Regions from separate parts of the Homo sapiens genome. Here regions 1 and 2 are each linked to region 3. Evidence: fine-mapped expression QTL. A gene starts in region 3. Each other region holds a variant in brackets. All regions are shown on one strand. Distances are from middle to middle.

Region 1 (2,844 bases), 60 kb after region 3:
GCATTTTTAAAAAAACTGAACTATTATGTATTGTAATGAATGATGTGAATTCTGAACTGAGACAGATAATTGTATTGCTGTCCAACAGGGGTTGGGAGGGGCATTTTGTAGGGTTTGTATAATTTCTAGAGTTCGAAAGGGGTAATATAAAAATGTGCTCGTGTGTTTAGCCTACGTTTTTCTCATGCCTCCATTACCAGTTGCAATTGTGTATCTAAGACCTCCAAGCTTGTTTTTAAAACAAAACAAAAAACCTTTCTCTATTATCTCAGAAATATAAATACTGTTATTTTTAATATTAAGAAATTCAATATAACTTTTAACACACACTGTGGAACATTAAACCGTATAAAAATGTAGTTATAACTATTTTTAATTCCAAGGTGTTGTTTGCTTTTTTCTTTTAAATATTTTCTTAATATTTTGTCAGATTAACTAGATGAATAAATAAATCTAGTATTAACCGCATTATGAATTAAATAATTTTGATTTAATGAAAGGGATAATATGATTTCCAGTGTTTACTGTAGTGTATCTTGTACAGATAACATGTATTTTTAAAGGAAAAAAAACGGAATTGAAGCTATTTTTTCTTGCATTTCTAATTGACCTGAGGGACATTCCGTTTGAAATGTACTGAAGTTACAGTTTCTGGTTTTTTCTCCTTATTTTTCTTATAATGCTTGAAATGTCTAACTATTAAAAAAGACAATTGGAAAATGTTATGCATGGGGTTTTTAAGAAAACAAAGTGTTCTTTTTATTTGACTGACAATTCATTTTACACTCTATATAATAAAATCTCCACAAGGCATCTTGTGGGCAAAGTCTTTCTGGCCTGTTTGCTTTCCATTCGCCGGTTCATCCCTCTGCCCCTGCCCGCGGCCGCCCGAGAGGGAAAGAGGATTCCTGCGGGCCTCGCCCGTCATCTTGCACCGCGTCCACCCGCCTTCGTTGGTGCACAGTCTAGATGTCTAGCTAGTTCGTTAAGCTAATTTTATGTTAATGGCTCTGTATGATTTGACAGCTTGACTTGAGAGCCGTGGTTGGGCTCAGCTCCCCTTCCCTGTCACAGTCAGGCATCTGTAAGTGAGAAGTCAGTATGGGAGTGTCATCGGATGGAGCTGGGAGATGCATTGAAGGGCGTGCGGCGGGTCAGCAGACTTCTGCGACTGACTGGGCAGCCCCTTGCCCTCCGCCCGCTCCCCTTCCCTGCGTGCCCATGCACACACATTCGCCTGCAAATGTAGGTGGGCTGCCCTAGGCGCGGTGTGCTTCCCTGACTGTTGCTGCCTGCATCCCCCACCTCCTTGTCCCCAGCCTCACCTGTGGCTGTGGTGGTGGTGCTTTCTCGCTCTTAGCCCCGTGCCCACGGTGGGACACCAGATCGCCAGGAGGGCTGGGAAGCATCAGCACACGTGCTCGTTATGTCCTGTCCTTTCATGAAGAAACAAATGGGGCGTCCTTCCCCAGAGGTGTTAAGTTACAGTCCTGTGGTCTTAGGACTCGTGGCGACAGTGTGGGCCTCAGACTTGGAAGGGCATTAAGTAATAGCATCAGCCCTCGCCTTTTTTTTTCCTTCTGTCCCGTTGGTTGGGGTGACTGGCATTGAGCAGTGTCTGCTTTCACGTCTGAGGGGCCCTGCCTTCGCCCTCAGGCTTTCTGTGCGGGTCTCTACTTAGATATAGAGACCTGTTTCCATCCTGAA[C/T]GGGGCTTGCTGGGCTGTGCCTGGCCAATACCGGCCCCTTGTCTGTACTCCAAGCTTCTGACAGGAGGGGAAAAAAGCAGCTGTGGCTCCTTCAGGCCGAAAAGGGGTGTGGAGAGCAGCCCATCTGCGGCCATGGCAGGCCTGTTGAGAGCCGGAAGACAAAAAGGAGATGTGGCATTTTTAACTGCACCTCTAGAGAATCGAGTTTGACGTTGAGAAATTGAATAGTAAAAGGCACTTGGAAAGTGGGGGGAGGGGGCCGAGTGGGAGGAGGGCGTAAACGCTGATGACGGTAATGGGAATTCGGGAGAGGGCATTACAGAGAAGACTTCCTTCTAATTCATCTTCCAAGCTCTGTGCCAAAACAGCATTTGGCATGGTTCACAGGGAGCGATTGTGTGATAATGAACCCTAAGGTGTCCCTTAATTGAAGACTGAGCATTGTGGTTTGTGCCAAGAGTCATAAATGGCGCAGGCTTGCGGAGGATGCATTTTCTTAAATGTATCGGTAAGTACAGATTAGCGCTTGTCCCCAGTGAAATGCCCATACTATAAATTATGGAAATCTCTCTTTCTCTCTGATGCAATCTTTTATTGGGGGGAGGGGGTGTGGTACGACAGGAGGCGGGGGGGGAAAGTTTGCAAGCATATGAAATTTGGCCTCTCATTAACATGGCGCCCAAGGAAGATGATTTTCATCAGCAGTCTGGTGTACTGGAGGCTAAAGTGCTTGAAATGTACCAAGTTCAGCGGTTGTGTTCCATTAAGAAAGATGCATGGTCATCACTGTAAGGGCGGTCGGGGTCCGGGAGGCGGGGCGGGCGCTTGCCCAGTCTGTCTTCTGAATGCATGCCCCACCCCCACCCGCCACCGCCCATGCCTACTGGGTCTCTGCCAGCCTCCCAAGTTCAGGATCCATCAAGGACCCTGCTGAGCCGATCCCAGCCCCACCCAGAAGTTTGGGCTGGGGTTGAGGAGTTCTCAGCCAGCGGGCCTCAATCAGTACCCCTGGCCTCCCATCAGATAGGAGGCACCATCTTTCCAGGGTCACTCGACAGTGGTGACCACCCATGATGTCCCAGAGCCCCCAAGGTAGGGTCGGCTGGGGCACAGATGGCACAGTGCAGTGCCTGGTCC
Region 2 (2,500 bases), 55 kb after region 3:
CTTCCTCTCCCCTCTCAGGCTTCCATCTCCTGAACTTTTCAGAAGCAAACAGCTAGGGAATGACTTCTTCTGCATCCCGCCTCTCCAGGGAGGCTGGTTGTGAAGGAGAAAGTCCTGGTGGGAATCAAAGCCGCCACCCTCTCTGTCCCCACAGACGCTTCAGGAACCACTGTTGGGTTTCAGAGCTGGTCTAGCCCCTCTGGCATGGCCTTCACAAAGCAAAGCAGAACCCTTACCTTAGTACGATCCACGTTCTTTTGACCCATCTGGAGTTTCTGTCCTGTGTTTAGAAAGGCTTCTTCAGTGTCTGCAGATTCCCACAGCACCCAGGCCGCAGGCCCCGCCTCACAGCCTGGCTCGGAGGGCCTGAGCCCCCTTTCTGGGGTTCTGCCACTTCAGCCTTACACAGAGTCCTGAGGCCAGTGCTGTGTGGCCTTAGGCACGCCCTGCCTTCTCTGGAGCTCCACTTTGCCACATGTAAAATCAAGGGTTTGGGTTTGAATTCTAAAGTACTTGCATGCTCTGAAATTGTATAGTTGTGTTTCTTCCCTTTTTTTCCCCAGTATCTTATTATGAAACGTTTCAAATATCTTAGAACACTCTGCAGTGAGCACCCACAAGGCACCCAGATCCCACCATCCATCCCCTTTCCCTCTGCTCGCTTGGCCATAGGGGCTAACCCTGTTTCCTTTCCTCGGCTCCTCACCTGCTGTTCTAGTCTGAGATAATCCTCCAGGCAGCAAGGTGGCCAGGATTGACTCTGGGGACACTGAGGCCTGGGAGGCCTTCAGGGGAAACGGCCCCCTGGCGGGTGGAACGGGCAGAGGCCTGTGGGCTGAGGAAGGGAGAGTGCAGGAGGCACCCGGTGGTCTTGCCGCCATTGGGCAGCCTTCATCTCATGTTGTGGAGCTTGGCTTTTTTTGTTTATTCAGGGGTTTTGCAGTGGAGAACCGGTTTGGGTTGGTGAAATACTGTTTGGC[G/A]GCGAAGTCCTGCTTGCCGGCGCCCTCCGCGTCCGAGGGAAGAGTGTTTGCTGCCTGTGTCCCTCTTTCGCCCTGCCCCTGTGGGAGGAAGCGGGGCGTCTCCTTCCCTCCTTCCTCCCGCTGCTTGCTTCTTCCCCACGCTGCTCCTCAGTATGCAGTAAAGTGAACTAGTGGAGAAAGCATTTGGCTGCATGCTCTCTGCAGTGGTTTGCCCTTCCTCCCTGCTTCAGGCTACAATCCTTACAGGAGACGAGACAGTGAGGGGGTCTTTTGTGGGCCTTGGCAGGTGGACACCTGAGCCAGCCCCGGCCTGGGCAGAAGGAGAGGTCCTGACCCGCCACTGTGGTCAAGTCTTTGAACCCCCTCTTGTGCCTGGCAGGGTGCTGAGGCTCTGTTCCCCCATGCTGGCTGTTTCTCCGCGTCCCCCAGTCTTCACTGCCCACATAGCCTAGAGGGTGAACCCAGGGTCCTGCACAGAAGAGAAGGGCTGGACCACCCAAACACATGCACCCCCTTTCCCTCTGCCCTACCCCAGCTGGCCTGAGGCTGGACAGGGTCCAGGAGCCCACTGGTGCTGCCTACCCCTGCTCCACATGGCCCCTCCACTTCCCTTGGTCCAGAGGCACAGCCCCCAGGCCTTGAACAGAGGGCCACGCGAAGAGAGTGGTCAGCAGCCTCTGGAGTCTTTGTCCTTTGGAAGGCTGATTGGGGAGCCTCAGAACAGCAGTGGCTGTGGCCGTCAAGCTTGCGTCTCCATCTGAAGAGGGTCAGGCTAGCCTTGCTAGTTGCCTCGTGTGCCCAGCCCCACCCTTACAGTGATCTTAGTTACACCCCTTCCCCCAGCCCTGCCAGCTGCCACCTCCTTCCCAGGCAGGGCTGCGGAGCCGTGTGTGGCCAGGAGCGAGGTGGAGGAGTGCAGGGCAGGGCCTGCAGCTGGCGGGCTGGGGCCGAGGCTGTGAGGAGCCCGTAAGGCCTGACTGCTTTTGTGTTCTTCGCACAGGCCAGCAGAGCCAGCCGCAGAGCAGCCAGCCCAACTACAGCAAGGCCTGGGAAGACTATTACAAAAAACAGAGTGAGTGCCCGGCCCTCCTAACCTGTGGCAGCACAGTCCCCTCCAGCCCAGAGACTTCAGAGTCCAAGGCTCACTGTCACCTCTTTTTTCCCTAATGCCTTCCCTGTGTGGCTTGATCTCATTATTTGCCTTCGTCCTCCACCCTGTACCTGCCTGCTTCTTTCTGTCAGGAGTCTGGGCATAGTCAGTCAGTGACCACAGGCTGCCCTGCGACTCGGCACATCCCCTCCTCTTTATTCTCCCCGTGCTGGGCTCCAAAGGACTTGAGGTGGGCGTGGCACCTGGAAGTGTGGGCTCAGCTGGCGTCTGGTCTCCTTAGGGACTGAAAGATTCCGGCTGGGTGCCACCTGGCCGGCAAACAGACCAACCAGACATCTTGTTCTCTGTCTTGGTGCTTCAGGGCAGATGAGGAGAGGTGGTGAGATTCAGGGAAGGAGGCCTTACCTGG
Region 3 (2,837 bases):
TATGCATGAATCAACATTCTAACCTCAGAGATATATTTCTAAAATTCAAAACAGAAGTTATCACTGATACTTGGTTCAGCTGAACGACTGTGTTCATGAAAGTTGATACCATTGCCATTCCTTGATTTTTACAAGCATAGCAAACTTAAAACGCTCAACACACCCAGAATGGGCAATAAATGGATGTGTTGGCATGGTCCTCCTCGTGCTGGCACTTCAACAACACAGCAAGCTATGTACTTTTGAACAGGGGTTGGAACATTTTTTCTGAAAGCAATCTTCAATCTTGCAATTTTGCCAAATTCTTTTATTTTGCCATAATCTATGAATTATTCTACTTGGCATTATTGAATGCAAAATAAGTTTACTAAGCACCTACTATGTGCCACACCCTAGGGATACAGGGAAAAATAAGTCTCTGCTCTAAAGTAACTCACAGTCTAGGAAAGAAGTCATTAACAAATAAATAACTATACTTTGGTTATTGGTCAAGTATTCCTCATACTTCTTTAGAATGCCCAAAGCTCTCTTGGCATAATGACACAGTGAGGGGTGAGGGTGGGGTCATCAAGGAAAGTTATATGGGACTTTTTTCCCCAAGAAAGGGTCTTGCTCTGTCACCCACGCTGTACTGCAGTGGCGTGATCATAGCTCACTGCAGCCTTGACCTCCAGGGCTCAGGTGATCCTCCCACTCCAGCCTCCCAAGTAGCTGGGACTACAGGTGTTTGCCACCACGCCCAGCTAATTATATTTTTTGTAGAGACGGGGTCTCACTATGCTGCCTAGGCTGGTCTTGAATTTCTGGGCTCAAGAGTTCTGCCTGCCTTGGCCTCCCAAACTGCTAAGATTACAGGCGTGAGCTACCGCACCCGGCCCGTATTGGATTTTATTTATTTCCTTTTCTTGGTGCTCATCCTCCTTCACAACTTCAAGATGGGCATAAGATGTTTGACAACATGGTTCTTCATTAAGTCCAACTCCTTATCATAATAGGGCTTGGGAAATATTAAACACGAGGGCAATCGTGCTAACACAAAAATGGGCGCCCCCTAAACCTTGTTACTTGTTTGCTCACTTATAAGAAGAGCCAACTCAAAGGCTCAACTGAATTCTAGCACTAAGATTCCTTCCTTGCTGTAGAAGATCTGTACCTGGTCACTTCCATTAAAGTTACATAGGCGTTCCAAGAAGCCTCCTGCAATACAGTTGTGACTCAGCCGGTATGGGAGTAATGACGGTCCTGTGGTATTTCCTGCACCCCCAGAGTCCCAGAGTTTGTTAAGGACCGTGTAAGAGGACACCACGCTGGCTTTTCAGTGGGCGCGTCTCTCCTGGGGGCATCACCAGACAACCCCAGGCGGAAGTGGCGGTGGCCCATCCTCATGCAAACTGCAGTGTAAGAACTGGGGCCCGGGACTCCTCGCAAATGTGGGACACTGACATTCTGTGATGCTGTCCCAATGCCCTTTCAAAGCGCTCAGCCCCCAAATTCCCAACCAACAGCCATTTCAGGGAGGGGCTACCCAGGACCAGGCTTTTGATGAACCACGACTGTTCGGGGTGCCGTCTTGGGAGAGCCACGTCAGTCCCTCTGAGATTCCAAACGGCCGACAGCGGACACCTCGGGACCACATCCAAGCCTCGGGGACCTGTCAAGACGCCATCGACGGTCCTGGACCAAATCCCGCCCGGGAAGGGAAGGGTCGCGACCGGACCCTGGAGACCCACGGCTGCCTGGCGATCTGAGCCCACCCCGGCGCTGCCGTCCCGCCCCCACTTCCGATCGGTCGAAGGTCACGTGCCCTGACCCCGCCCCGCAGACGCGACTCCTCCAGCTGCGAGCGTCCCGGCTTTCCCTTCCGCCGGAAGTAGGGCGACTTTCCTTTTCCGGCTACGGGTCCCCAAGCGGAGCGGGAGGCCGGACCGGGGAGCCGAGCGGCGGCGTCGGCGGCGTCGGCGGCGGCGGCGACGGCGGCGGGGGCGGTAATGGCGGAGCTGGTGCAGGGGCAGAGCGCTCCTGTGGGGATGAAGGCCGAGGGCTTCGTGGATGCCCTGCACCGGGTCCGGCAGGTACGGGCGCAGCCGGCTGGCAGGAGCACGAGATCCCGAGGCGGGGCCTGGCGGGCGGGGAAGAGGGGTTCGGGCCTGGGGGGCGGGAGGCAGCCTGAACCGACGTCTCAGCCGGGCCGGGCCGTTCCGTGGAGTTCCTACAGCCGGGAGGAGCCGGGGGGATAAGGCGCCACTGCGAGGCCCAGGCCCGGCCTGTCGGGCGGGTCTCCCAGGTGCCTGAAGTCGCTGGGAAAGGGTTTGCTTAGAGCGTCTGGCCCCATCGTGCCCCAGCGGCCAGCCTGGACCCACAGTGTAGCTAGCGCGGGGTTCTGAACCTCGCGAGGGGAGGGGTCCGGGAAGCCCACGGGGAGGATCTGGGTGTAGACATAAAGCAGCTGTCTGACGCCCAGTAGCTTGTTAAAACTTGGGGAACATCGTCTTTAGACTTTCTGTTGAGTAGAAGGAACTCGAGGGCATCTTATATGTGAGGGTGCTCTTTGGAGAGGTGAGAGAGGGAGGTGTTACATGTGTGGGGGTGGTCCCCAAGATGTAGAAATTTCTCATGGCAAGCTTGCCTCTACTGGGGAGAATGATATGGCCTCATTCCGACATTGAAACTTTACTGTCTGACAATGTCGTGCATTTAATCAAAGTTAAATTAACTGGGTTTTAGAAGGCTCCAGGCTTCCCCAGAGAGTGAATATGGGACCTGCCAAAAATACTTACTGGCTTCTGGCATGGTACTTAGAACAGAACGTGTTCTTCATTTGTATCTAAAACTTACTT

The links.
Region 1: its variant is fine-mapped to the expression of FUBP3 in whole blood (TOPMed, PIP 0.95).
Region 2: its variant is fine-mapped to the expression of FUBP3 in breast (GTEx, PIP 0.98).

Annotation. Positions count from the first base shown.
Region 1 is chr9:130,637,524-130,640,367 of GRCh38, forward strand. FUBP3 (far upstream element binding protein 3) reads left to right here. Exons shown (of 19, transcript NM_003934.2): 19 at 1-829. Among named protein-coding and RNA genes, the nearest start is that of MIR6856, 13 kb to the left of the region's middle. RefSeq lists an enhancer at 729-1,324. The variant C/T (reference allele first, on the strand shown) is at 1,708.
Region 2 is chr9:130,632,687-130,635,186 of GRCh38, forward strand. FUBP3 (far upstream element binding protein 3) reads left to right here. Exons shown (of 19, transcript NM_003934.2): 17 at 1,981-2,052. Among named protein-coding and RNA genes, the nearest start is that of MIR6856, 7.6 kb to the left of the region's middle. RefSeq lists an enhancer at 1-274. The variant G/A (reference allele first, on the strand shown) is at 981.
Region 3 is chr9:130,577,693-130,580,529 of GRCh38, forward strand. FUBP3 (far upstream element binding protein 3) reads left to right here and starts at 1,885. Exons shown (of 19, transcript NM_003934.2): 1 at 1,885-2,072. The coding sequence starts at 1,989. It overlaps LOC100272217 (a long non-coding RNA gene), which reads right to left and starts at 1,802. Exons shown (of 1, transcript NR_027440.1): 1 at 1-1,802. LOC124902286 (a long non-coding RNA gene) reads left to right here and starts at 2,148. Exons shown (of 2, transcript XR_007061818.1): 1 at 2,148-2,556. RefSeq lists a silencer at 1,833-2,202.